5 linked regions of the Homo sapiens genome follow. The protein of the gene in region 4 purifies or fractionates together with the protein of the main gene of each other region. This does not show direct contact. Each region holds a gene or a part of one and is shown on either strand. Other genes may lie near its edges.

Region 1 (6,051 bases), on a different chromosome or scaffold from region 4:
TCCTCTGAATTTAAAACATATTATCTCCAAATGTGTATCTGATTTACTCCCCCGTGTTTCCCTCCTCTGTAGTTAGTACTACCATTCACCCAGGTGCTCAAGCTATTATTGATGCCTCATCTTTCCTTACACGTCTTTTGGCAAACCCTGTAGGTTCTATTTCCCAAATAACCTAAAACCTATTACTTACATCTCGCTGGCCTCTTATCTTGTCTAAGCTACCATCATCTTTCACCTAAGCTACTGAAACTGCCTTCCAACTGATTTATCCTGCTTCTGTTCTCACTTTCACTACTTCCAAACCCCAACGCTATTTTCCACACAATAGCAACAGAGTGTCTTGCTCTGTTGCCCAGGCTGGAGTGCAGTGGCATTATCTCAGCTCAACACAACCTCCGCCCCCCAGGTTCAAGCAACTCCTCTGCCTTGGCCTCCTGAGCAGCTGGGACCACAGGCACGCCCCACCATGCTGGCTAATTTTTGTATTTTTCACCATATTGGGCAGGCTGGTCTCAAACTCCTGGCCTCATGATCTGCCCACCTCAGTCTCCCAAAGTGCTGGGATTAGACGCATGAGCCACCGCACCCAGCCATTTTTTTTTTCTTTTAGATGGGAGTTTCACTCCTGTTGCCCAGGCTGGAGTGCAGTAGTGCGATCTTGGCTCACTGCAACTTCCGCCTCCCAGGTTCAAGTAATTATCCTGCCTTAGCCTCCCGAGTAGCTGGGATTATAGGCGCCCACCACCAAGCCCAGCTAATTTTAAATTTTTAGTAAAGACGGGATTTCACTATGTTGGTCAGGCAGGTCTCGAACTCCTGACCTCAGGTGACCTGCCTACCTCAGCCTCCCAAAGTGCTGGGATTACAGGCATGAGCCACTGTGCCAGACTGAGAGATCTCTTAAAAAACAATCAGAATAAGGATCATGTTACTTTCCTTGTCAAAACTGTTCAATAGCTTCCCATCACATTTAGTATAAACCACAAAGGCCTTACATGGTCTATAAGACTCTAAATGATGCTGGTGAATGGCTACCTCCTAAATTTCATCTCCTTCCAGTCTCCCTATCACACAAAGCATTCCAGCAGCATCAGTCACCTTAATGTTCCTCAAACATGTAAAAGCAAAATACTCCCTCAGGGTCTTTGCACTGCCTGAAACACTCTTCCCTCATTTAACTACATAGCTCATATTCTATGTTATGTAGGAGTTTTCCCATATGCTATCTCCTCAGTAGTATCTTATCTGACCATACATCTAAAATAGTACATATGTGGTGTCTTGTTCTGTTTTACTCTGCTTTTCCTCCAAATTACTTCTTACTATCTATTATATGCTTTTTTGTTTATTTCCTATTTTCTCCACTAAATTATAGATTCAAAAAGGGCAAAGAATATGTGTGCTTTGTTCAACAGTGAATCTAGGCTAATACCTGGCACATACAAGGTGCCCAGTAAATACTTAATGAGTGAAAGAATGTTGAATAAAGCAGACCACTAGCAATGTTATGCTAATAAATATATGGAATGTGCCTTTCATATTCCTACATAAGTATATAATTACAGATTTATAATAACCATACTTTTATTGGTGAAATTAAACTAAACTGCTAAGAAATTCTCCCTTTAAAAACATCATCCATAAAGAGTTTTAAGTCCAACTTTAAATGTATTTGCCACATGGGAAACTGCCTTTATTACTTTTTCCTAAGAATGTAACTAAAGGGAAATAAGCAAACAAAAAAGTATTTTATTGGCATACTTTACCGTTTCTTTTGGACCAGGGGTGTAAGCATGAACTTTTCACAAGTGCTTCATCAACTTTTCCTCCTGACATGTTATCCATGAACTGACGCCCATGTTCTAATGCAAGGTAGCAGTCATTGCAACAGTCACGCTCTTCAACACGTACCCAATTGCTAATTACACCACTTTTAGGAAAAGGATCTTGGTCTGCTGCTCCAAAGGGTGAAAATAAATTAGTGCACTGATCTTGTAGCAATAATATCAAATCATCAGATAATTTTTCAGATTCCTTTAGTCCTCCATTAACATGTTCAGCAGAGGTAGCCCTGAGAGCTTCAAAACGTTTTTCTGCTTCTTTGCCACAGTCTGTATTGCGTCCTATGATATCTAGTTCATCTTCAAGAAATAATCCTGAATTGTTTCCAAATTTTCTGTTCATGACAGCACTGAAGCCACAGGTACACCTATATTGTGCTTCCTGCGTTGGATCTGGAATGTAAACTCCAACATCGGCACCCTTGATGTTCATGTTGCAAACACAGATGCAACAACTATCAAAGTTACAGTCTTTAAACAAATTCATAACTGATTCTGAAAGGATGAGGTTTACATAAAGACTGTGTGCTTCAGGGATGGAAGGGACAGTTGCAGGTTCAACAGAATTAAGGGGTCTGCATGTAGATGGGGTAGAAGCTGGTGAATACAAGTCTGAATTTTCATATTTGACTGAACCTTGAGCACTAGCAGGTCCACCAGCTCCACGAGGAGTCCGAGGAGTCCTTGGAGTCCTTGGAGTTGGAAACCGAGGGGTGGATGGAGAAGGAAGAATTCCTGCTCCGCTGTTACTAGGAGGTGCACTGCTAGGAGGCATCCCAAAAGAAGTATGAGTTTGAGGTGTATAAGCAGTGCCATATTCTTGATCCATATTACTTCCATCACTATCATCACCAGGGTAAAAGAAGATCAAATATATATATAAAGGAACATATTAGTAATGTGAAATACAACTAAAAACGTCCCAAATGTTTTTCAATTACATAGAAAATTATGAAAGGACAAGTATTGCAAGAATTACAAGCACAGTCAATTCTTATTTCTGGTTAACATATCTACTCTAAGTGATTGTTGTTGACTAAGGATCAATTAACAAGTTCAAAAATCATTAATAAGCACTCTATACACTAATGCATACCTAGACATCCATATTTACTATCTATAAATTTTGTTTACTAGAAATACTTATATTTCCTTGATTCTAAGATGCTACTGACTATAAAAAAAGAAAAATGATTTTAGAGATGCTCATGTGTAAAAAGGGAAAAATGGTAATTTTAAAATGCTACCACTTATAAGACATCTCAGATTCAGATTTCTTTTAGCCTTGAGTTGAAACTGACCAAGTCAGAGATGTTAAAATGTGAAAAGTGTGGAAAAGATGGCAAATGTAAAAATGGGAGCAATTTAAAATTGCAGCCCAAAAGAAAAGGTGCTTCGGAATACAAATCAAGCATAATAGTCTTAAGTTTCCTAATAGTTTATCCATACCCAATTAACCTTTTTTTTTTTTTTTTTGAGACAAAGTCTCACTCTTGCCCAGGCTGGAGTGCACTGGTGCGATCTCGGCTCCCTGCAATGCCTGACTCCCAGGTTCAAGCCATTCTTGTGCCTCAGCCTCCCAAGTAGCTGGGACTACAAGCATGCGCCACCACGCTTGGCTAATTTTTGTATTTTTAGTAGAGACGAGGTTTCGTATGTTGGCCAGGCTGATCTCAAACTCCTGACCTCAAGGGATACGCCTGCCTTGGCCTCCCAAAGTATGGGAATTACAGGCGTGATTCACTGCTCCCAGCCAATCACTATAATTGATTAACCAGAAATAATTTTTAGAATTTTCAAAAACCAATTTTATTTTTCCAGCATACCAGGTAAATCTATGAAAAAAAAATTAAAGCTGTATAAGCAGTCACATACTATTGTAACAACATAAATCATACCCCTCTTTGATGAATGGCATTGAAGGCCCTGAAGAAAGCAATTCCAATTTTCCAACAGTCCAACTCTGACGGTAAATACACTCTTCTGGCAATTTGATAGGGGGCAGATATTGGCTTGGTAGAGTTTTTAGAGGTGCAAACATGGAACATCCCACTAGAATTTGACAATTTTCAGGCTTATAGACATAAGAAAAATCCTACAATATAAAGATGGTAGGTTTTCAGTATCTTATCTTCTAGGAGGAAAAAATAAATAAACAAACAGGCTCTGGACCTTTTTTCCTTTCTTTAAACAGAATAAAATCTAAATACAATTCTATTATTTTCTTAAATGCATTCTTAATAGTGACAACAATAATTCAGTCCTCAACTTAGCTACAAAACCGCAACCACTATAAAATAATTTTTGACTATAGCAACAAATTAATTCTATAAGAAAATATAGGAAGTGAATTATTTTTCTAGAAAAAACATACTTACTTTAATTTCAGAAGGTTTGGGGCTACAGAATCCCTCATCAACCTCAATTTTGAACTGCGCTCCTATACTAGAACTATTTCCTTCTAGAACAGTTCCTCCAGGTGTTGTATCCATACTACCATATTCTTTATTATTCATATTCATTGGGGAAAATCCCATAATATGTTGTTCCAATGATGGTGGTGTAGGATACATTTTATGAAGATCTGCAGTGCCTATATTTAATAAAAACATACATTTTAACATGACTAAAAATAGGCGAATCTGTGTTTAAACCAAAAGGAGTGGGGAGCTTTGTTGAGATTAAAAGTTCGCAAATTTATCTCGAGCACAGATGAGGGAAGCTTACTTATGCAAGATAACGGGTCCAGATTTCCTGTCTTTGATTCCTTGCAGCTGGCTTTATCATCTGATCCATTTGCTGATTTTTTAGATCCAGGCTATTTAAAAAAAGCACATATTTATCTAAAATTTTACATCCAATGTGATCTCAAAATAGTAATCATTCAGATATAACTTAACAGTAAAGCCCATTCATTAAAAGTAGTATTTTGAATCTGTGATACAGCCAAATACATACTAGTGTTGAAAGATATAAAATATTTCTTAATCACTGACTCCAGATTAATTTATTTGGTAAGCCTCCAAATTAAAAGGAAAAAGTTCCTCCAAAGAAAATGACCAATACTTTCAAAATACACAGAAGTAAGGTTAACCTTAACTTAAAACCCAGTAATAAGAGGCCGGACATGGTAGCTCACACCTGTAATCCCAGCACTTTGGGAGGCTGAGGCAGGCAGATCAATTTGAGGCCAGGAGTTTGAGACCAGCCTGGCCAACATGGTGAAACCTCATCTCTACTAAAAATACAAAAAATTAGCTGGGTGGGGCATGCCTGTAATTCCAGCTACTCGGGAGGCTGAGGCACAAGAATTGCTTGAGCCTGGGAGGCAGAGGTTGCAGTGAGCCAGGACTGCACCACTGCACTCCAGCATGGGCAATACAATGAGACTCTTGTCTTAAAATAAATAAAAATAAGAAAACCTGCAATAAGAAGGGGTTGTAATTAACATTAGAAATGCTTCTTGGTAAAAGATACTTGCAGAGAAAGCATTTGTCTCCTTAAGTTGAACACATTAAAGTTTCCTATATAATCAATCACTCACCTATCTAAATTCTTATTTATACTTTCACCTTGTTTTAATAGTCTCCCTATTCCTGCAAAAATACTGTTAACAGGTAAAACTAAGTACAAACTTCAGAAGATCTAATGACAAAGCAATAGAGTTCCTAACTTTTAGTAGATTGAACAAACAAGTTTTACTATCTCCAAGCTCTTACCAGTGTTTTCAGAGCTAACATTTGTTCCATGTCTTCTGTTAGACAGTCTGTGATAAATATTAATATGTAGACCACGTTCTGACTACAATCTTTTATTTCAGAGGAACCACAGCTGATACAGGAATGGTAGTAGAGAGAAAGTATGAATGTGCCAAAGCATTCAAGGATATAGTTGCCTAGTAAAGGGTGCCCTAAAATGTACTACATTATGGGATACACAGTAAAAGTTTATGTATCTGCAATATATATATATGTATATGTACACACACACATATACACACATATAGAGATATATATGTTGAGAGAGGACTAAATGCATATTATATAGGAAAGGAAAGATCAAATGTACCATAGAAGTTTCCAAGCTACCTTTATGCAGATGAAAAGGAATTCCCTTTTATGATAATGCAGCACCCAATTCATTAATTTGACAGAGACTTGACATTCTAGGGAATCTCATTTTAAGCTTTAATTTCTTTTATCTTCACCTT
Region 2 (6,051 bases), on a different chromosome or scaffold from region 4:
GGCATGCGCTAACATAGCCGGCTAATTTTTGTATTTTTTGTAGAGATGGGGTTTTGCCATGTTGCCCAGGCTGGTCTCAAACTCCTGGGTTCAAGCAATCTGCCTGCCTCAGCCTCCCAAAATGTTGGGATTACAGGCGTGAGCCACTGCACCCAGCCCCAATTATTTTTAATGAAAAAACTTGTCTTCACATATTTCCTCTTAATCATCTAGATTTTTTTCTTCATTATTAAACAAAAAGCAATTACTAGGAAGAATATCATTTCTAGTAGAATCTGACATGTTTTTGCTGCATGTATTATACAAGAGGAAGAAGGACTTTGAATCTGGGTTTAATCCCCAGCTCTGCTGCTCAGTGTCATGGTCCTGGGTAAGCTACTTAACCTCAGTTTCTTCATATTTCAAATAGGGATAATCCTGCCAAACTCACAGCATTTTGTACAGACTAAATGAGATGATATTTATTAAGAAAAAGGGGGCTACTTTGTCATTGTTGGTATTAATAACGTAACTGTAAGCCAGGATAATAAAAAGTACAATTCAAGGTTACATTTTCAAGTTGGTAATGTTGTTACAAGCCTCTCGACTTCTTTACCCTGCCTCTTTTGGGTACAAAAGACCCTTCTCCCTGGAGGTATTTATTTCCTATATCAAGTTCTCAAAACCTGTTCTTAAGAGAGAAGCTGACTGTATTTACTAAGCTGATTTTCTTCTCAACTTTGTATTAATTTGAGATTTATCAAACTGTAGAACAAATGAAAAAAAATTTTTTTTTTGGGACAGAGTTTTGCTCTTGTTGCCCAGGCTGGAGAGCAATGGCGCAATCTCGGCTCACTGCAACCTCCGCCTCCGGGGTTCAGACATTAGAAGAATACTCTTTTGGGGTACCAGGCCCTTTCCAGCACTCTAAAATTATGCGTTAAAGTCACATCAAACTTTTTTTTTTTTTTTTTTGAGACGGAGTCTTGCTCTTTTGCCCAGGCTGGAGTGCAGTGGCATGATCTCGGCTCACTGCAAGCTCCGCCTCCCAGGTTCACGCCACTCTCCTGCCTCAGCCTCCCGAGTAGCTGGGACTACAGGCGCCTGCCACCACACCTGGCTAATTTTTTGTATTTTTAGTAGAGACGGGGTTTCACCGTGTTAGCCAGGATGGTCTCTATCTCCTGACCTCGTGATCCGCCCGCCTCGGCCTCCCAAAGTGCTGGGATTATAGGCGTGAGCCACCGCGCCCGGCCACAGTCACATCAAACTTTCAATATGAACCTTTCTGAAGTCAATAGCACCTGCGCACATACTTCCTCAACTTTTTTTGTATTGGTAACGTCTACTTATTTACTTGAAGTCTGGACCTATAAAGAAAAATAAGTACGGAAAATGTAGCAGGGAGAGATGTCTTTATTTCAAAGTTTTTTTTCCAACAGCTTCGGAAACATGCCTAAAACTCCTGAAATACAGAAAATTAACAGAAATCACCCTAAACATCCCAGTGGTAAGTAAAATAGATGAGAAAAGAAAGAAGAAAGAATACCTGAGAAATGAACAGAAGTTTTGGGCCACTTACTAAAATGTACCTACATAGGATCAAAGCATTCAGTATGTATTATTAAGATTTAAGGTTTAGATATTAAAAAGTACTGAAAAATGGTAATATAAGCTAGATTCTCATAAAATTCCAGAAAAGCATTCCACTGTGTAAACATGCAGAAAATGACATTAATACTTACAGTTAGAGGAACAGGGTCTTGAAAAGCCAGGCTCATTTCATGGCAGTAAAGAAATAAAAGTAGGCGCTCACACTTCTAAGCAAAAATAAATAAAAACTGAGATAAAATATTATAAAACAATGAATTCACAGCTTATTTTAAATAACAATCTCAGAGGTCCCAAAGTGTCAGACTAAAAATTAAAACCCAGATGAATACAAAAAAATTACTGATTCTCGGAGTTTTGCTCTCCTTCCCAATATTTGGGAACAGGCCCTGTAATTGAATGAACTAAGACAATCACTAGAAAACCATTTGAAGTTTTCTAACAATAAATTTGCACTTATTGCTCCAGTCTGTGTATTATAAATTAGTAATAGTCTATAAAGGAAGAACGTACGTCTCTTAGGAGAACTGGAGGTGGACCTTCTCAATATGCATCCAGACCTAAGGCACCTTTCTGCATGCCGAAGGTCCAACCATGTGCTCTGCTATTCATATACTTCCCTGCTTTATGGGTTTATCCCAGTAACCACTGAGTAGTACTGGCAGTGAATGGGCACGTCCCCTCTTGCATGACAACTTTCATATTGACTGTTCTACTTAATAATTTAGCAAAGGAGTTTTTTTGGTAACAAAGTGTTGACTTGGTAGCTTTAAATGTTATTTACAGTTAAATATATCAGTTGGCTTTGATGCATAAGTCTAGTCCCATTCAGTGAAAAAAAAGGAATTATTTCCAGGAAGAGTAAAGAAAAAACCCAGCTCCTTGGTGGCAGTTCTAAGGAAAAATCTTATCTATAGTAGGAAATAAAACAAAATAGAAATTTACTTAAGGTAGATTAAAAGTCTAGGGTACATATTCCATCTTGTTCAGGTACAATAAGCTTCTATAAAATACATGCATTAATTCTGTGATTTTTTTAATTTAAAGAAAGTTACAGTCTTTAAGATTCATGTACCTTTGTAAACAAAAAAAAATACTCTTAAATAAAAAGGATCAGTATAAAATCTGGATGGATATACACCTCTTTGACAAAAGGTACCACAGTACAATATTGCACTACAATACAATAATGCATCTTACCAAAGACTTACCCTTTTATCTATAGGTGTTAACTTAACAAGGCCTTCAGTTTTCTTTTTTTCTGAGTTGTGACTGGGAGCATCACAATCATATTCAACTTCTGGTTTAGATAAGTCTCGGCAGAAAGTGCAAATCCACTCTCCACTGTTAGGGGACAATGTACTTTTGAATTCCTAATGCATCATTTCCTCTCTTCACTATTTCCCTTTCCCACCTCCTCCATGACATCTATGATACAGAATTGTTCATTTGGCATGAATTTTAATCACTGAGCATTTACCACATACCACTAGGTATACTGCACCATGCTGAGAGGAAACAGCAGAAATATAATGCAAGGGCCTAACAAACATCAAAATCTAGTTAAGAAGGTGTGAGATACATATATTGAAAAAAAAGAAACACCTAAACAAATTTAATCTAGGGCTCACATATCTAGGGCATAATTGAATTTTTTTCCTCCAAAGGATTCAGGAACTAGAAAAGCTCTTTGTACTATTCTTGTTACTCTTAAGTTTATAAAATTAAATTTTCAAAAGTATGGCCTTCCAAGAACTGAGAGATCAACCCAATGGCTCTTAACCATCTTGGTCATGATGATGATCATCATCCCCATAGGGTATGAGAATTTACTTGAAATACTTGTAAAAGATACAGTTCGATGCCTGGCAAAAAGACATAATAAACTGTGGTAGCTGTTATGCATAGGGACATTGTTCCTTATGATGATCCCTTGTGATAATTTAAAGGGCCTGTTATTTTTTTTTCTTTTTGTAATGACTAGGGAGAGGGTCTTGCTCTGTTGCCCAGTCTGGGGTGCAGTGGTGCAAGCACAGCTTACTGCAGCCTTGACCTCTCAGGCTCAACCAATCCTCCCACCTCAGCCTCCTGAGTAGCTGGGACTACAGGCATGCACTACCATACCCGGCTAATTTTTTATTTTGTACAGACAGACAGGGTCTCCCTGTGTTGCTCAGGCTGAATGATTAGTTTTTTGAAAGAAGCACAAAGAATAAGCGGAAGGGTATGGGAAAACCTAGACTATTCATTGGGATTTTGGAGTATACACTTGTGCCAAGTGGAATTTCATTTAAGTTTTTTCAAAGGCTTTCTGTTAAAATAATCTTCAAAAGTTTACAGTAAAAGAATGTGGGAAGGGAAGTACTATCTTACCTTGGAAAATTTGTCAATGTGGGCACATGACAAGAAAGATGGAATACTTTGGGGCACTTTTCACAGCAGAGGAGTTCCCCTCCGTTTTGACAAACTGCACACCAGTCCTCATTGGGGTCATCCTCTTTCCTTGTCTCTCCAACATGAAGAGGTGACTTCTGGGAAGGATCCAACCATTCAGACTTTCCATTTGAGGAATTGTCCTGGTGAAGTCCAGGTTGATCTCCTGTACTATCAGGGGCATCTGATCTTAGCACAGTCTCCTCAGAAGTAGAGCTCTGACTGCTATTTAAGAGCAGGGAGGTGAGTATGCTTCTTGGATAATTGGCCTGTAGTAGAAAAAAAATATATTTAACTGGCTTTAAAAAAAATTTTATCACTAATGCAATTCTGAACTGTAGACCACTCTCTGGTGAGCACCTGGCTGCTTCAAAGGAATCTTCAGGAGAAGGGTATATGTTTATTGCTAACTGGCTTAGAAGACATGAACCTCTACTAAAAAATACCAAAATAAATAGAGAAAAAATCTAAGTCTGGGGATGGCTACAGAAATTAGAGAATGGGTTGGGTAGAGTGGAAGTCAACCACATGACCTATATATATATATATATACCTCACTGGAGCTGTTCATTCAAATTATACCTAAGATACAAAAATTATAAGATGAATCTAAACTTTCTGTTGAAGCCCAGGATGGTGAAAATTTCAAATCAATAACAAAAACAATCTCCTTCAAATGTTTTCAAAAATTTCAAAGTAATAAATGTAGATATAGTTAAAAGCACTTATTCCTTGGAAGAACTATTTTCAAACCTAGCTTTTTCTTCTGCTGTTTACCTCCATATTTCTAAATAAAATGATTGTTAAAAATTGCAATACATCTATAATCCTTACTAGTGAAGATCAGGAGATTAGGTTTTTACATTCTGATTCTCCAACCCCGTCCTGCTTCCATTCGTGCGTGCGCGCACACACACACACACACACACACACACACACAAAACCACCACCACCACCATTCACCCCATCCCTTTAACTTAGTTTTGATTAAGCATTGATTGTTTTAGTTGGTAGGTACTGGTATAACTGTTTATTGCCAGTATCTATTCTAACTGATCAGTATTTGTCTTGTACTGGTTAAGTATTCTGAAAATCACAATTTTTGGTTAAGTGCATATTCAGGTTATATCCTGATTGCATCACAGTTTTTAGTTACATTCGTACTCAGGTGTTTGTTTACATCATTATTATTATTATTTAAATATTGTTCACTGCAGACCCACAAAATGTACTAAGACATTTTTTGTACAACTTTTTGTTTTTACTAAGACTCTGTAATTACCTTATATTTTCAGTTGCTTATCTTTCTAGGTACCTATTTCTATGTTATTCTCACAATCTCCAACAGGAGATTCTCAATACTGTTGAAGCATTTTTCTCCCTTGGGAGTCCTATGTCTTCCTGCTACAGACTACTGCACAAGCTGCTGCTGCTGCTGTACTGGGGGTTGCCTTTTTCTTCTGTGTCAGATTCCATTTTTGGAATCTTATGTCTTCTTTCTTGTTTTACTATATTTTTGATGATTCATATTATCAAGTATCTTCCTGAGAATGAGTACATAAGAATTATTTTGAGAACTTGCACGAAAATGTTTAGTTAATCTTCAAGTCAATCTGATTGATAATTTGCCTGGGTATAAAACTCTGATTAAAGAAAGAATATCTCCTTTTAACTGCCCAGCCTCCATATCTGAGCCTCTGATTTTTAAAAACTTTCCTGTTTTTCCATCTTTGTCTTTTTGTTTAATTTACTGAGAGATTCCCTCAAATTGTCTTTAAATCCTTTTAAATATAACATTAAAAAAAAACTCCTAAGAGCTATTTAAAAGATTCTCTCACCCTACCCACCATGCATAGGAATAGCATTGCAAGCATTCATAATTACATTTTGAGGCCTAGATTCTTCATCTGATTCTTGCTTCACTATAACAACAGGGAAATCATAATTTTCCGGTGGTCCACTGTTTTCTTGTTTTATTCGAATTGGCTCCAGCATGACCACTGGGACTTTGTGTGTAGAGTCAGCTCC
Region 3 (6,051 bases), on a different chromosome or scaffold from region 4:
CCTGTTTTTCTTTCTTTTTTTTTTTTTTTTTTTTGAGACGGAGTCTCGCTCTGTCGCCCAGGCTGGAGTGCAGTGGTGTGATCTCAGCTCACTGCAGCCTCCACCTCCAGGGTTCATGCAATTCTCCTGCCTCAGCCTCCTGAGTAGCTGGGATTACAGGTGTGTGACACCATGCCTGGCGAATTTTTATATTTTTGGTAGAGATGGGGTTTCACCATGTTGGCCAGGCTGGTCTCGAACTCCTGACCTCAGGTGATCCACCCACCTCAGCCTCCCAAAGCGCTGGGCCTACAGGTGTGAGCCGCAGCACCCAGCCTGCTTTTCTCGTGTTAATCTATATCTTGTTAGTCTAATTTACAGGGACCTAGCTGGACATCTAAAATGGGTACAGACAAAAGGTTTTTTTCTATCCCTAATGGAGAGAAATCCACCTCTGACCCCCACAGCAGAGGTGGGACTACTTACAAGCTGACACCATCTGGGGCTCGTGGGGAGCGGCCCTGTTCCACTGCAGGGATTGAATGTGGGGTATAAATTGTGCTTTACACAATTGCTGCCAGCCCACGCTAGCTACAAACACTGAACAATCTAGATGTCAACTTTTACATGGGAGCAGATAGCACAGACCGCAGGACCTATGAAGAGAATCAGCAGCCAAACTGAGCAAGTACCCATTGAAAAGGGGATCGTGTAGGAAACATACACCTCTGTAAATGCCAACTGTGTTTTTCAGGGAGACTTAAGAACACACTACAATGAGAAAACAAGAGCAGGCTGCCAAGAAAAAGCATCCTGAGAGCATTAAGCTCTTTTGGCAATTAAAAAAAAAAAGATTGCTGGGGGGAAAAAAACCCACAACAACTCTACAGGGGTAGCAGATAGAAGAATGGAGTCAGCGGCGAAAAGATGAGCTGGCGAGTTAGAAAAACAATTCGAGGAGCTCTCTGAGAATCTCGGGGAAAAAAGCAAAGCAACAGAATTAATGGGGAAAAAATTTAAAAGATGTAAAATATGTTCTTGGAGTTCCAATATCCATATAACAACAGTAGTAAAAATTTTAAAAATAAACAAATGGGCCGGGTGCAGTGGCTCACACCTGTAATCCCAGCACTTTGGGAGGCTGAGGCGGGTGGATCACGAGGTCAGGAGTTCGAGACCAGCCTGGCCAATATGGTGAAACGCCGTCTCTACTAATAATACAAAAATTAGCTGGGCATGGTGGTGCGCACCTGTAGTCCCAGCTACTCGGGAGGCTGAGGCAGGAAAATCACTTGAACCCAGGAGGTGGAGGTTGCAGTGAGCCGAGATCGTGCCATTGCACTCCAGCCTGGGTGAGAGTGAGACCCTGTCTCAAAAAATAAAAATAAAAAATAAAATAAACAAATGAAGGGCTATCAGTATATTAAAAAGTATGGCCAGGCACAGTGGCTCACGCCTATAATCCCAGCACTTTGGGAGGCCAAGGCGGGCAGATCACTTGAGGCCAGGAATTCAAGACCAGCCTGGCCAATATGGCAAAACCTTGTGTCTACTAAAAAGAAAATGCAAAAATTAGCCAGGTGTAGTGGCGCATTCCTGTAGTTCCAGCTACTTGGGAGGCTGAGGCATGAGAACTGCTTGAGCCTGGGAGGCAAAGGTTGCAATGAGCCAAGATCATGCCACTATATTCCAAGAGCAATACTCTATCTCAAAAAAAAAAAAAAAATTAAAAAGCAGAATACAATTTCCCTGAGATGAAGAGCTGAAGAAAGACTTGAGTTTTTCAGATCAACAATGGCGATAGAAGATTATTGAAAAAAGAAAAAATTATATAAAGATCTTTAGCAGGCTGGGCATGGGCTCAAGCCTGTAATCCCAGTGCTTTGGGCGGCTAAGGCAGGAGGATCACTTGAAGCCAGGAGTTTAGACCAGCCTGGGCAATATAGTGAGACCCTATCTCTACATAAAATTTTAAAAATTAGCCAGGCATGGTGGCAGGCACCTATAGTCCTAGCTACTCAGAGACTAAGGCTAGCAGACCTCTTGAGTCTAGGAGTTCGAGGTTACAGTGAGCTATGATCACACCACTGCACACCAGCCTGGGCAACAGAGCAAGAACTTATCTCTAAACAAACAAATAAACAAATGAAAACCATCCAACTATATTTATTAGCCAGGCACGGTGGCAGGTGCCTGTAGTCCTGGCTACTTGGGAGGTCAAGGTGGGAGGATTGCTTGAGCCCAGGAGTTTGAGGCTGCAGTGAACTCTGATTGCACCACTGCATTCCAACCTGGGTGACAGAGTGAGACCCCATCTCTAAAAAGTAAAATAAATAAAAATAAATAAAGATCCTTAACAAACAAAAACAGATTACTCACAGAGAAAAAATAGACCATTAGTGGACTTCTCATCTACAACACCAGAGACTAGAAATTTATGAAGCAAGGTTTATATATTCTGAGGTGAAAGCACTGTGATTATGACCTCAGAATTTTACACCTAGCTCAACTTTCCCTCACATGTGACAGCAAAAGAAGGACATACAAGTAAAGACACTTAAGGTCTCAGAAAGTAAACTCTGGAATAATTTTTTTAATTACTTGATGGAGTATTCCTGCCAAATGGAAAATTAATCACCTTAAATAATTCAAGAAAGGAGAAGAAAAGCTATAGGAAAACTTATCATGAGCAATGAAACCAATTAAAGTATAAGGTATGGCTAACAAGTGCGTTGTAATATGACCATGAAGCTTAATACCTGTTCAGAAAGGATGTTTACAAAAGAAAAAAAAATTAACAATTTGGTAGTAATCTGGAACTAAAAGTTCACATTATTTCAACTAAATCTGAAAGTGAGAAGGAAGAGGGAAGAAGAAAAACTATAAAAGTGTGCTAAATGTTTTATTTTCTCTGGAAGAATAGTTATATTCTACTCTTTGTGGTGATAGATGAGATAGGTTCTAGAGTGTGCATGTATGTGTGTGTTGGTGTGTGTATACACTTTTTTTTTCTGAGATGGAGTTTCACTCTTGTTGCCCAGGCTGGAGTGCAGTGGCACAATCTCAGCTCACTGCAACCTCCGCCTTCCAGTTTCAAGCAATTCTCCTACCTCAGCCTCCCGAGTAGCTGGGATTACAGGCGCCCGCCACCACGCCCGGCTAATTTTTGTATTTTTAATAGAGACGAGGTTTCACCATGTTGGTGAGGCTGGTATTGAACTCCTGACCTCATGATCCGCCTGCCTCAGCCTCCCAAAGTGCTGGGATTACAAGCGTGAGCCACTGCGCCTGGCCCACTTTTTTTCTTTTTTTAAGACAGAGTCTCATTGTGTCACCCAGGCTGGAGTGCAGTGGCGTGATCATGGCTCACTGCATCCTTGAACGGACAGGCTCAGGTGATCCTCTCTGAGGAATACCTCCACCTCCCGAATAGCTGGGACGAGAGGCATGTGCCACCATGTCCAGCTAATTTTGTATTTTTTTGTAGAGACGGGGTTTCACCATATTGCCCAGGCTGGCCTCAAACTCCTGGGCTCAAAATATCCACCGGCCTTGGCCTCCCAAAGTGTTGGGATTACAGGTGGAAGCCACCACATCTGGCCTATATATATGTTTTGATGGGGAAGTTACCACTCTGTAATTATCATTTAGAGAACTGGTGAAACAGAATGGAAGGAAAGGTAGAAAGTTTCGGCCAGACATGTTGGCTCACGCCTGTAATCCCAGCACTTTGGGAGGCTGAGGCGGGTGGATCACAAGGTCAGGAGATCAAGACCATCCTGGCCAACATAATGAAACCCCTTCTCTACTAAAAATACAAAAAAAAAAAAAAAACTTAGCCGGGCATGGTGGCACACGCCTGTAATCCCAGCTACTCAGGAGGCTGAGGCAGGAGAAACACTTGAACCCGGGAGGAGGAGGTTGCAGTGAGCCGAGATCATGCCACTGCACTCCAACCTGGATGACAGAGCAAGACTCCATCAAAAAAAAAAAAAAAAAAAGAAAAGAAAGAAAGGTAGAAAGTTTCAATAGCGTGGAGATACACACACACACACAAGCACTAGAACTTACATATATATGGATATATACATATAGATATATGCATATATACACATATATATTATATACATATATTTGTGTATGTATATATATGTGTGTACAACAAATACAACTTTTCAACTCTAAGGATTATTGCTAGGAATATGTGAGTCCAAGGAATATCCTAGGCCGCTAAGAAAATCTCAATATAGTCTTAGATGTAGAACTCATACAAACTGTATAAACTGGCCATAGTGCAGAAATTAACAAGTATGAAATCGCACCATCACATTCCAGCCTGGGTGACAGAACAAGAAACCAAACATCAAAACCACTTGAAAATTTTAGAAAACACTATTCTCTAAAACTTTTCAAGAGAAAAAAATTTCTTTTTTTTTTTTTTCGAGTCAGGGTCCGGTTCTGATGCTCTGGTTGGAGTGAAGTGGCACCATCACAGCTCACTGCAGGCTCAAATTCTTAGGTTCAAGCAACCCTCCTGCCTCAACCTCCCAAATAACTGGGACTACAAGCATGTACCACCGACCATGCCTGGCTAATTTTTTTTATTTTTTGTAAAGATGAGGTCTTGCTATGTTGCCCAGGCTGATCTCGAACTCTTGACCTTAAGCAAGAGAACCTTTTTAAGAAAAGACTGAAATGAAATTTGAGAAATGATTGACTATGAGAACACTAATGAAGTTATCAAAGTTATGGCATACAGCCAAAACCATATACAGAGAACTTATGCCTTAAAAGAGTTATTATTAGGCAGGGCATTGTAGCTCACGCCTGTAATCCCAGAACTTTGGGAGACTGAGGCGGGTGGATCACTTGAGGCCAGGAGTTCGAGACCAGCCTGGTCAACATGGGGAAACCCCGTCTCTACTAAAAATAAAAAAAATTAGCCAGGCATGGTGGTGGGCACCTGTAGTCTCAGCTACTGGGGAGGCTGAGGCAGGAGAATCACTTGAACCCAGGAGGCACAGGTTGCAGTGAGCCAAGATCTACCACTGCACTCCAGCCTGGGTGACAGAGGGAGATTCTCAAAAAAAAAAAAGTTATTATTATTAAACAATAAAGATTGCAAATAAATGAATTATAAGTTCAAGAAGCTAGAAAATGAATAATGACAAAAGTTAGAAGGAAGAAAATGACAAAAATAAAATGATCAAACAGAAAGAAGGAAAACATTAAAATCAGTAAGCAATCTAAGGAAAGACTAAAAGTACAGTACTTTGAAAAGACTGCTAAACCACAAATATACAACATCAGAAATAAAAAAAGGGGGTATAGTTACAGGCATATAGGAGATTTTTAAATAATGAAAGATAACTCAGGATGAACTGGAAAATCTTCCAAAAATCTGACACAAGAGCCAAAACAGATTAATGCCATGGCAAAAATGGGAAAAGTTCCCAAAAATCTACTATAAAAAAGGCACCAGTTCCAAGATGGTTTTTCAAAAAACTTTTATAAGCCTAAATTTCTTATATTCTTCAAATTGTTCTAGAGCAGAGAAATTATAATAGAATTTTAACATTCACTGAGTATTTAATATGTGCCAGGCACTACGCTAAACAATTTATATGTACAGTTGGCCCTCAGTATCTGCAGGTTACGCACCCGTGGATTCAACAAATCTTGGATCAAAAATATTCAGGCGAAAAAAAATCAATTAAAAAAGTACCACAATAAAAAAATATACAAATTCAAAAATATAGTAAAACAACTCTTTACATAGCATTTACATTGTATTAGGCATTATAAGTAATCTAGAGATGACTTAAAGTATACAGGAGGGGATGGGTACAGTGGCTCACACCTGTAATCCCAGCACTTTGAGAGGCCTAGGGAGGGTTGCTGCCTGAGCCCAAGAGTTCTCAAGACCAGTCTGGGCAATGTCGTGAAACCCTGTCTCTACAAAAAATTTAAAAATTAGCTGAGTGTGGTGGTGCACACCTGCAGTCCTGTATAATCTGGTGGCTGAGGTGGGAGGATTGTTTGAACCCAAGAGATTGAGGCTGCAGTGAGCCA
Region 4 (5,568 bases):
TGTTGGCCAGGCTGGTCTCAAATTCCTGAGCTCAAGTGATCCACCCACCTTGGCCTCTCAAAGTGCTGGGATTACAGGCATGAGCCACCGTGCCTGGCCTATTATTATTATTTTTAGCTTTCATTTTTTGAGACAGAGTCTCACTCTGTCACCCAGGCTGGAATGCAGCGGTGCTATCTGAGCTCACTGCAGCCTCAACCTCCTGGGCTCAAGTGATCCTCCCACTTCAGCTTCCTGAGTACCTGGGACTACAGGCACCCACCATCATGCCCAGCTAATTTTTGTATTTTTTGTAGAGTTGGGGTTTTGTCATGTTGCTGAGGCTGGTCTCAAACTTCTGGACTCAAGCGATCTGCCAGCCTCCGCCTCCCAAAGTGCTGGGATTACTAGTGTGAGCCACTGCGCGGCACCTCAAGGGCACTTTAGATGCAAGCCTGTACTTCAGAGATGGAGAAGAACTCCCAGTTCTGATTGGCACATTTAAAACCAAAGCTGGGAATTCAAGACCTAATGCTTGGAAAGGCTGACGCATGTGATAATTTGTAGTCAGTGACTTTTCGGGGTGGATATACAATTTACTGAAGTGTTTGCCTCCTGAAAGATGAGGGGAGGTCACTCACCGGAAGACGGGCAGGTCCTTAGTAAACTTGATGACTTGCAGTACCATGAAAGTGTTGATGTCTGCGAAGTGTGTGACCAGAGGCAGCACAGGGGCCAGGGTGGGCAAGGGCTGGTGATGGATGAACAGATGAGCTGGAGGCTGCAATGATCAGAACATTAGCTAGAGGCTCTGGCCCTAGGGCCCTCCTTTAGGCCTCGCCAGCCTTATCTTGGAAGAGTTCCTTGCTGAGAAGCCTGCTCAGGCTGGGGTTCTGGAGATCTGTTCTCAGTATCAGTGCATGGCATACACCCCTCTCCTTCAGACCAGCATTTTTGGGTGCCCTTTTAGTTGTATTCCAACCCAAATCCTGTCGGTGCTCACCCTAAACTGCACAAACTGTTCAAACATGGTGCCCATGTGGCGGGTGTGGGCCCCCAGGAGTGTCCGGATCAGCTCTTCTTGCTCCTTACTCAGTTGCACAGGTGTTTGCTGTGCCCGCCGCTGGGCCTGCTTTGCTCGCCGCAATGCCAGGGCTTCTGCCGACAGTATCACTGTGCCAGGCAAGAGATCATGACAAAGCTGTTGAGACCAGCAGAGCATTTCTCTCTGCTGGTCCCTGATCTGGGGCCCCTCAGCTGCCCTGCACAACGAAGGATGGGGGCAGTGGGGGGAATTCCTGAGACTTTCTTGGGCTTGGCTAAAGTCCTAGAGGCTCCAGGAGGCAGGGGGCTCCTATACACTTCCACCAACCTGTGAAGAACTGCAGCAGAAAACTGCACTGTGGGGGAGAAGGGAAGGGTGGCGAGGAAAGTATGAAAGATGTGAGGAAAGGTGCGAGGGCTTTTGGGGAAACAGTGTAGAGGGAGGGGTCTTCATACCTAGAACATCACTTTATATGATGTTTTCAAATAATCCTTCAAAAATAATCAAATAATCCTTTCAAATAAACCTTTATCTGATGTTTTAGCAAAATTTCAAAACTTCTGAGGTTAAATCCCACTGAATGAAACAACCCCAGGATAGGCAGGGCTGGTATTCATCATATATATATGTGTGTGTGTGTGTGTGTGTGTGTGTGTGTGTGTGTGTGTGTGTGTGTGTATATGTGTGTGTATATATATGTGTATATATGTATATATATGTGTATACATGTATATATGTGTATATATGTGTATATATATGTGTATATATATATTTTTTTGTTTGTTTTGTTTTGTTTTGAGATGGAGTCTGTCACTCTGTCGCCCAGGCTGGAGTGCAATGGAGCAATCTCGGCTCACTGCAACCTCTGCCCCCTGGGTTCAAGCAATTCTCCCTGCCTCAGCCTCCTGACTAGCTGGGATTACAGGCACCCACCATCACGCCCTGCTAATTTTTTTTTTTTTTTGTATTTTTAGTAGAGACGGGGTTTCACCATGTTGGCCAGGCTGGTCTCGAACTCCTGACCTCAAGTGATCCACTCACCTCGGCCTCCCAAAGTGCTGGGATTACAGGCGTGAGCCACTGCACCCAGCCCAATCACATTTTTTAGAAATGTGGACAGGCTTAGATTCTGGTGACAGAACCAAGGTCACAAAATAAGTAATATAGATTGAATTCAAACCAAAATCTTTTGACTTCTGCAAAAGATCCAAGATCAAACCAAGATCTTGAATTCAGACCAAGATCCTTTGACTTCTACAGTTTCCTTTCATTCTTCCATAGTGAGAATCGTGTGATATGGAAAAAGCAAGAGTTTGGGAGTCAGGTAAACTTGAGTTTGAATACTGACTGTACAACTTCTTCTTCCTTCTTCTTTTCCTAGAGAGGACATCTCACTCTGTTGACCAGGCTGGTCTTGAATTCCTGACCTCAACAATCCTCTTGTCTCAGCCTTCCAAAGTGCTGGGATTAGAGGTGTGAGCCACCGTGCTCGGCCTGCACAAGTTTTTAGTTGAATTAACTTGGGCAAATTAACTTCCGTGAGCCCCAGTTACATCCTCCTTTGGGAGCATAGCACAGTTACCTGGCACAGAGAAAGCATTAATTAAGTTATTGAGCACCTACTAGGTGACAGGCACTATACTCAACAGATAGAAAATAAAAAACACACCTGTAATCTGAGCACTTTGGGAGGCGGAGGTGGGCAGATCGCCTGAGGCCAGGAGTTTGAGACCAGCGTGGTCAACATGGTGAAAGCTCATCTCTACTAAAAATACAAAAAATTAGCTGGGTGTGGTGGCACATGCCTGTAATCCCAGCTATGCAGGAGGCTGAGGCAGGAGAATCACTTGAACGCAGGAGGCGGAGGTTGCAGTGAGCCGAGATGGCGCCACTGCACTCCAGCCTGGGCAACAGAGTATGAGACTCTATCAAAAAAAATAGAAAGAAAAGAAAAGACAAGACTAGCCATGTGGCTATCTAGGAGAAAAGCATTTCAGGTAGAGGAAATGGCAAGTGGAAAAGCCTTGGGGAAGAGTGCGCTTGGTGTTTTTTTTTTTTTTTTTTTTTTTTTTGAGTCGGAATCTGGCTCTGTCACCCAGGCTGGAGTGCAGTGGCGCGATCTCGGCTCACTGCAAGCTCCGCCTCCCGGGTTCACGCCATTCTCCTGCCTCAGCCTCCCGAGTAGCTGGGACTACAGGCGCCCGCCACTACGGCCGGCTAATTTTTTTTGTATTTTTTTAGTAGAGACGGGGTTTCACTGTGTTAGCCAGAATGGTCTCGATCTCCTGACCTCGTGATCCGCCTGCCTCGGCCTCCCAAAGTGCTGGGATTACAGGCGTGAGCCACCGCGCCCGGCCTGGTGTTTCTAAGAATGACAGTGAAGTCAGTGTGGCTAGAATTGGTTGAGTAAAGGGGGAAGAGTATGAAATAAAGTCTGAAAGGTGTTGTGGGAGAGCTAGATCATGAGATCACGTACTTTGAGATGGGGAGCCATTGGATGTCTTGAGTGAATAGTGACATAATCCAACTAGTTTCAAAAAGAGTACTGTGCCTGCTATGTAGAGAATGCACTGTTGGGAACAAGGACAAAGACAGACGCAGTCAATGGATTCTTGAGATGTAGGGGGCCAACTCACTGTCTTTCCTCATGCCAGCATCTAAGCACTTCTGCAACCTGCAGGCTGGGCAGTGGCGCCTCTGAGTCTTGCTGACTTCACAGCTTCCAGCAAAGGGGCAGGTGGGACCAATGCTTTTGCTGACTGTTCTCCTGTGAGACACAGAGATGTTGTTAGAGTCTGGGATGCAATGGATAGGTGAGGGGCTGAGATGACATGGTCTAAAAGACCTGGGAATCTGGTGAAATGGACTAATCTGAGCTGTGCCCAAAGGTCCCCAGGGGTGGATAGTATCCAACACATCTCAAGCATTTCCATGGCAACACAGGATCACTCCAGAAAGCCTAGTTGATGTAGTACTAGCTAGGTGCTTCACAGGCAGTGGGTACATAATAAATGCTCTTGACTAATGGGCTGTGTCCATCAGACAAACATTCAGCTTTCCCTCTGTTATGCCACCAGTTTATACAGTGATGTGTTTGGCAAGATGTAGGATGCCAGCCACAGGGTAGTTAGACTCTAAGATAAAGGAGTAATGTAGCTGGACAGGCTTGGGCACCAGCGAGGGTGTAAAGGCTGACTAATAGGGAGTTTGGTTTGGAGGGCTATTTCCATTGGGGAGGAGACTCTCACCTGAAGAAACCCTTGCAGCCCTCACAAGTCAGCGCATTAAAGTGGTAGCCTGTGGCTTGGTCCCCACATACCACACAGTTCCTCAGCTCATCTTCCCTACTGGCCATGACGTCACGTGTTGGGGTGGCTGTCACAGACTCCTGAATGTAGGAGGGGTCAGCAGTCAGTTTTGGGCCACCCTTGACCCTTTTCTGTCCCTTCTAGAGAGTCTCTTTCCAAACCAAACCAAACATGCCCTTGACTTGATCCCTGGCGTTATCTTTTGTGGTTTTCTTTTTCTTTTTCTTTTTCTTTTTTTTCTGACACAAGTTCTTGCTCTGTCACCTAGGCTAGATCTCTGCTCATTGCAACCTCTGCCTCCTGGGCTCAAGCAATCCTCCACTTCAGCCTCCTGAGTAGCAGGGACTACAGGTCCAGACCACCATGTCCAGCTAATTTTTGTTTATTTATTTATTTATTTTTTTTGTAGAGATGGGGTTTTGCCATGTTGCCCAGGTTGGTTTTTTTGTTTATTTTTTTTTGTTTATTTGTTTGTTCTGTTTTTTGAGATAGAGTCTTACTCTGTTGCCTAGTGTTGCCTAGGCTGGAGTGCATCATAGTTCAATGTAACCTCACACTCCTGGGCTCAAGGGATCCTCCTGCCTCAACCTCCTGAGTAGCTGGAACTATAGGTACACACCACCACACCAGGATATTTTTTTCTTTTCCTTCCTTCCTTCCTCCCTCCCTCTCTTATTCCTTTCTTTCCTTTTTTTTTTTTTCCCTGAAATTGAGTCTTGCTCTGTCACCCAGGCTGGAGGGCAGTGGTGCAATCTTGGCTCGCTACAACCTCCGCCTCCCAGATTCAAGTGATTCTCATGCCTCCGCCTCCTGAGTAGCTGGGATTAAGGTGCCCGCCACCATGCCCAGCTAATTTTTTATTTTTAGTAGAGATGGGGTTTCACCATATTGGCCAGGCTGGTTTCAAATTCCTGACTTAGGCCTGGTGCAGTGTCTCATGCCTGTAATTCCAGCACTTTGGGAGGCCGAGGTGGGCGGATCACCAGGTCATGAGATCGAGACCATCCTGGCCATCATGGTGAAACCCCGTCTCTACTAAAAATACAAAAATTAGCTGGGCATCGTGGCATGTGCCTGTAGTCCCAGCTATTTGGGAGGCTGAGGCAGGAGAATCGCTTCAACCTGGGAGGCAGAGGTTGCAGCGAGCCGAGATTGCGCCACTGCACTCCAGCTTGGGCGACAGAGCGAGACTCCATCTCAAAAAAAACCCAAAAAAACAAAACAAAAAACAAAAAA
Region 5 (6,051 bases), on a different chromosome or scaffold from region 4:
TTTTTTTTTTCCTGCAGAAACCAACGGGATAGGATTCAAAACTAGGTGACAAACTCATGAGAAATCCAACCTGGCTGAATGTCTGAGAGGCTGCTACTGTATCAACATCACAAGATAAAGCACTCTGGTATCACCTGCCCATATCCTCCTTAGTGTCACCCAAGACATTTGACTCTGATGTGGTTAATTGATAACTTTTCTTGCTCCACTTTACAATGTTTTGTTTCCTACATCTTATTACCTTGGGACACAAAAGTGGCAGAGTTGTTGAGAGCTGATGACAATAAAAAGGAGAACACTAGAGGAAATGAGACAGGAAAGAAAGCCAAAGCTGATTTTCCAACTCTATGCTGACTCCAACCTGCAGAAAAAGCTGAATATAGAAATCTTCTTCCATATATGATGAAGTCACTCCACTTACGACATAACACACAAAGGAATCACCTGGCTTTTTTTTTTTAACCCAGAAGAGTTGTGCTGGGGACCATGCCCCATCCCGCTGATACAGATCCTGAATGGAATAATCAGGAATGGCACAGTGCAGGTGTCAATATCAAAGTAAGGCCGCAGAATTTTTGAGAGGACCCTCCAAATACTGAGAACTTCTGTTGCACTCGAAACAGTCTCCTGGATTTCTATATTTTTATGTGAAGGGCTCTTATTGATGTCCCCCAGAATCCAGACTCAGACCTATTTCTCCAAAAAGGTCCAATTGGGTTGCTACATAGTAGCAAGGGTTTATCTTCATGCTCACCTAGCATTCCAGGCCCCCATTACTTCAAAAGTGAGCTTGAAATTGTTTTAAGTGAACTATGGCTGCGGATTTTTTACTGTTTTATCTCAGGGAGCATACAGTGGAGTGATTAAAGTTTGGACTCCTTCTCCTTGTGATGAAGAGAAACAGTGAGTCCAGCTCTTAGGAATGGCATCAGTTCTCCTGCAAACAAAATGCTGGGATGCAGACTTTTGGCACATTGTGGAAGTAGGAGAACTATTAATCCTGTAATGGTTTTCATGCCACTGGGTCAGGAAGGCTGTCCTACACTAAACCTTACTGCATCTGAAAACATGTTTACATCCCAACAAGCCACCTTAGCTTTTTTTTTTTTTTTTGAAAGGAAAATGAGATTACAAGTCAATACCTCCACAGAGAGGTAACTCCTAATATTCCTATGATCTCTGAACCCTATTTAAACCCTCCTAAAATAAAAATATCATTTTGGTTTTTCTATTATATTTAACTCTAAAGGCGGGCTCTGACTAATTTGCTTGGGCTTGATGCTACAGTATTAGCACAAGCTATAAGCTCCCTACCACCATATAAGCCTTGCTCTTCGGCCTTCCATCATTTTGAACCCTAAACCTCATAGATTTAGAACGAAACACTGTATAAAAACAAACAGATAAAGGGTTAAAATATTACAAATAAATAGCTAAAATAATCTTCCCTCCCCCAGTCACTCCTAAGAAACAGACACCAAACATTACTTAAGTGTCCAAAATGACCAAAGTCCTTCATTTGCCCATGACTCAAACGGACAACTACCTCAAACAAAGTTGAACAACCTTCATGCAAATGCATCAAGGAATGTATTGCTTTTTCATTTTCTGCCCAGCCCTTCATATACATGCACTAAAATGAGTTTAAAACATGGCCTAAAAATGGAAAAAGGGAGAAGAAAATATATATGAATATTTCCCACAAAACTGTTTCCCTCCCTTCCCTCTCCCTACACCCCTCCCACCCCCCTCCCTTTCTTAAGCAAGTATTTTAACTTTCTTTCTGGCACAGGAACAAAGAAGACTTCCTGGTAACCAGAATCAAACCCTGTGGTTTCTTTAATAGGGTCTGGATATGCCTTTCTAATTCACCCAGCTTGATGTCAAAGCCATGCCATTTAGGATTCTTAACCAAATCAGACCTGTCTGACTCACCCCTTATGGTGGTTTGCCTATAAACTTATCAATAGTTTTTTTTCCTCTGGCCCTGTTTCTTTTAGGAAATAAGGTTCCTAATTCCCAATCAGGGCCACATCCATAAGATCATCATCTTCCTCCCCAATCATAAAGTCTGGGCTGAGCCTTGAGGGTCTGTCTGCAGATAAGATTGTGTTACTTGTCATAGACAAGGACTGGTCTGAAGAGATGGGTGATTTGGACCAACTCTCTGGCTTGATGCTATGAGATTTTTTCTTGTCTCGGTCTTTGTCCCGGTCTCGGTCCCTATCTTTGTCTTTTACTTTCTTCTTTTCCTTTTTGTGCTTCTTATGTTTCTCTGTGCTGTATTCTGGAAGTGGTCGGATACCATCGTCTGAGCTGGGACTATTCTGATAAGATTTCTCTGCTATGGAGGAGCCTGACTCACTTTCACTGTCCAGATTCTGGGGGGTATATGCTGGTGACTTACTATGGCTGGGAGAGCCACGCTCATGCTTTGGAGTGGAACCACTGATGAGTGGAGAGCCATAGTTTTTAGAAGAAGCCATTTGAGGCCTAAGCCCTTCTCCACTACTTTCCCCAGGTTTCTGCAAAGTCACTTTGGCTTTAATGCTAGGGGAGCCTCCATCATGCTTACTGATGATAATTTTTGCCACACCTGTGCTCCCCACATTTTTTGACTCTGAGGTCTTCTTAGAAGAATCCACTGAACTCCCGGAGGTGGAAACCTTTGATTTGTCTTTATCACTTTTCTCACGCTTGCCCTGAAACTCTCCTCCTGACATGTTATGTTTGGAGGACATAGGATGGCTGGAAGAATTTGTGCTCACCCCCATCTGGCCGTCCAGTGGGTCTTCACCCCCAGGGCCACTGGTGACAACCCCATGCTTCAGTTTATCTATGACAGCTGTCAAGGACGGCTTCTTGTTTCTGCTGGGAGATTTTCCTTTAGAACTCCCATGCTGGTTCTGAGAGGATGACATGGAAGAGCCACTTGAGGAAAAGGAGGAGGAAGATGCCGTACAGGAATTAGATGATGGGGGAGTTTTCTGGGACAACGAGCCTGAGGATCCTAACCCTGAAGATGACTTCATGCCAGAGCTTGAACTAGTTCCAGACATATGAGAACCACCAGAACCTGAACTGATAGGGGACTTGGCTTTAGAGGATGGAGGAGTTCCAGGAACAGGCTTCATTGGAGAGGCAAGCTTGTCAGAGCCTCCAGGTGGCCTTGAATGAGAAGGGGATATGTTTGGTTTACTTAAAGAAGGATTCATAAGTGATGATGGCTTTCCTTGAGGTTTCATCTTGGTGCTGCTAGAGCCACTGCTCAGTCCATGCTTGGTTATGGGAGAGGAGCCTGGCTTCCCCCCAGACTGGGATGAATTTTTGGACTGGCTAGATCCAGAAGACCCCTGGCTAGAATACATACTGCTACTTAACTTGGAACTTGATGAACCTTCTGATTTACTGCTTTTCATCTTCCCTGAGGTGGAAGCAGATGAGGAAGAGGAGGAAGAATGGCTATGGTGGCTTTTGCTGCCTGAGGAAGACACAGAACCACTGCTGGTATACTGACTGTGAGAGGAAGGCTTGCCCACCATCACTGTTCCCTTAGGAATCTGAATAGTGATTTTGGGAATGGGTGGTGTGGCAACACCTGGGGGAGTCTGAGATCTTCCTGCACTGCCTGGCGATTTAGATCCACCTGTACTGGTAGGTGGGGTAAAAGGTCTGTTAGAAGAACTATGAGATGGAGACTTTCCCTCAGTGTCTGCCTTCTTCCGCTTTGGAGGCTTATCTTTGCTTTTCCCATCATTAGAAGGGGTCCGACTGCGCTTCCCTGGTTTGCTGTCTAATCCGGGCCCCGAGAGAGTACTATTACTGGTGCCATTGCCTTCCTTTACCCTCTTTTGAGTCTTTTCTTTCCCTAAGTCCCCAGTGGTCAGTAAAGGACCCTGACTACCACTGTGATGCTCCATAAGATCTGCAGGAGCTAAAGCTTTGCCGGCTACTGAAATAATACTGAAATCAACTGTGTCGGCTTGGTTATTGCCCTTAAACTTGGTCTCCCCATTATCACCTCCAAGCATTGGCACCCCCAAAGTATTTAGTGCCTGAGATGCAAATCCTTTGAAATCATCATTATCCCCACTTTGGCTGCTTTCATCAAAATATTCTTCTCCAAAACCACTTTGGCTCTGGCTGTTCAATAAATCAGGATTGAAATCTACTCCATCATGAAAAAAATGATTGGTAGGAGAGTCACTACTGGGGCTTCCAGCAGCATCTGCAATAAGATCAGCTGGATCAGTGTATGGATTTTCATTATTGTTAGTTTGAAAGACATCAGAGTCAAACAGGGTACTCTGAGAATGCCCAGAGCTTGAAGAATCTCGAAGAGGGGTGCCAATGGCTGGGCAATCATCACTAGTGCTGGGAAGTTTAGAAGCTTCTTCTGCAATGTCTGAAAGGATGTCAGTTACATCTGGGCCAATGCTGTCTGAACTGGATAGTCGGACCATCCTTTGAATACTGGGTTGGGGGTGAGGTACTGGTTGTGGGTAAGTTGTTGGGGGAGTGCTACACTGGCTTGGAGCTGGAGTGATGTGTGGCGTATCCAGCGTGTCAGCTGTCATGTTGACATCAAAGATAGGGTTCTGTGAGTCAACATCCATTGAAAATAGCTCCCTCTGAAAGTCATCTTCAGTCTGGTGCTTTGGTTTCTCAGGTGGTAATCTTGATGACTTCTTTTTCTTGGTCTTGTTGCTCCCCGAGCATATTTCCATGCGGGGTGAGCCGGAAGAGGAGTTCTGCCTTTCTAAAGGGCTGCTTCCATAAAGGGTTGAGAAATCCTGGGCAGGATTATCTTTAAGAAGGTTCATGAGCATCGGGTGGTTCTTGGTGTTGCCGGCCATCGAAGAGACAGGTGGCGGCGTGTGATGAGGAGGGGTCGGACTCGAGCCAATGGTAGACCCCCCGTTCCCTGTGATTTGCAACAAACTGGTAAGAATTGGGTTCTGAGACACCTTGCTGAAGTCCTCCCCATGGCCCACCGACTCATGCCGATCTTTGATGCTCATGCTCATATTAAACAAGGTGGTAATGGGACCCCCCGGAAAGGTGTTGGTTGGTGTAGTGGTACCACTCATTGGGTTGTTGCCTGTGGTCATGCCATACCCTGGGCTGCTAGCCGGGGGCAGGTTCTTTTTCACCATGTCTTCAACTGTCTCTGCAATGAGGGACAGTGCTGGGGTGTCGGCTTGAATGGTTTCAGCTTTCCTCCGAATAGCCCTCATCGTCACAGGGATGGACATACATCTGCAAAATAAAGAAGAAAACAAAGTTAACATTGCAATAGCTGCTGAATGAGACCTGAGATTTAGATATAACATCAGAGTTTTGCAGTAAGCAGTTTTCAGGTAGGGCAAATAATCTGTAAGACAAAAATAGTTCTATCAAATACCAGAGCTTTGGGTAAATACATTCTAAAAATCTAACCCAACATAAAATTGTCAACCTCTTATGAATCACACAACAAAAGCAAACTATAAACAAGAGTCCAAATAATTGAATTTCAAACTTAACTAAAAGAAAATTGGTAATAATGGAACTCAGTAAGAAAATGCCTCCTTAGGGGCCGGGCACAGTGGCTCACGCCTGTAATCCCAGCACTTTGGGAGGCCAAGGCGGCTGGAACATGAGGTCAGGAGATCGACACCATCCTGGCCAACATGGTGAAACCCCGTCTCTACTAAAAATACAAAAATTAGCTGGGCGTGGTGGCGCGTGCCTGTAATCCCAGCTACTCGGGAGGTTGAGGCAGGAGAATTGCTTGAACAAGGGAGGCGGAGGTTGCATTGCACTGAGATCACACCACTGCACTCCAGCTTGGCAACAGAGTGAGACTCCGTCTCAAAAAAAAAAATGCCTCCTTAGGTCGGGCGCGGTGGCTCACTCCTGCAATCCCAGCACTTTGGAAGGCCGAGGAGGGTGGATCACTTCGGGTCAGGAGTTTGAGACCAGCCTGGCCAGCGGGGTGAAACCCTGTCTCTACTAAAAATACAAAAAATTAGCCAGCCGTGGCGGTGCACAGCTGTAATCCCAGCTACT

The links.
Region 1: the proteins of NR1I3 (region 4) and MED13 purify together in Homo sapiens (affinity purification with mass spectrometry; 3 studies listed by BioGRID and IntAct, with this or other methods). This does not show direct contact.
Region 2: the proteins of NR1I3 (region 4) and TRIM24 purify together in Homo sapiens (affinity purification with western blotting; one study listed by BioGRID). This does not show direct contact.
Region 3: the proteins of NR1I3 (region 4) and PML purify together in Homo sapiens (affinity purification with western blotting; one study listed by BioGRID). This does not show direct contact.
Region 5: the proteins of NR1I3 (region 4) and MED1 purify together in Homo sapiens (affinity purification with mass spectrometry; 3 studies listed by BioGRID and IntAct, with this or other methods). This does not show direct contact.

The regions. Positions count from the first base shown.
Region 1 is NC_000017.11:61,980,432-61,986,482, forward strand, and holds part of MED13 (mediator of RNA polymerase II transcription subunit 13), read right to left. Parts: intron 4,660-6,051; coding exon 4,569-4,659; intron 4,435-4,568; coding exon 4,220-4,434; intron 3,937-4,219; coding exon 3,740-3,936; intron 2,684-3,739; coding exon 1,767-2,683; intron 1-1,766. UniProt on the Homo sapiens protein: Component of the Mediator complex, a coactivator involved in the regulated transcription of nearly all RNA polymerase II-dependent genes.
Region 2 is NC_000007.14:138,577,445-138,583,495, reverse strand, and holds part of TRIM24 (transcription intermediary factor 1-alpha), read right to left. Parts: coding exon 5,908-6,051; intron 4,293-5,907; coding exon 3,964-4,292; intron 2,935-3,963; coding exon 2,802-2,934; intron 1,800-2,801; coding exon 1,725-1,799; intron 1-1,724. UniProt on the Homo sapiens protein: Transcriptional coactivator that interacts with numerous nuclear receptors and coactivators and modulates the transcription of target genes.
Region 3 is NC_000015.10:74,000,374-74,006,424, reverse strand, and holds part of PML (protein PML), read right to left. Parts: intron 1-6,051.
Region 4 is NC_000001.11:161,232,187-161,237,754, forward strand, and holds part of NR1I3 (nuclear receptor subfamily 1 group I member 3), read right to left. Parts: intron 4,413-5,568; 5' UTR 4,380-4,412; coding exon 4,273-4,379; intron 3,792-4,272; coding exon 3,661-3,791; intron 1,153-3,660; coding exon 983-1,152; intron 761-982; coding exon 621-760; intron 1-620. UniProt on the Homo sapiens protein: Binds and transactivates the retinoic acid response elements that control expression of the retinoic acid receptor beta 2 and alcohol dehydrogenase 3 genes.
Region 5 is NC_000017.11:39,405,463-39,411,513, forward strand, and holds part of MED1 (mediator of RNA polymerase II transcription subunit 1), read right to left. Parts: intron 5,260-6,051; coding exon 2,013-5,259; 3' UTR 1-2,012. UniProt on the Homo sapiens protein: Component of the Mediator complex, a coactivator involved in the regulated transcription of nearly all RNA polymerase II-dependent genes.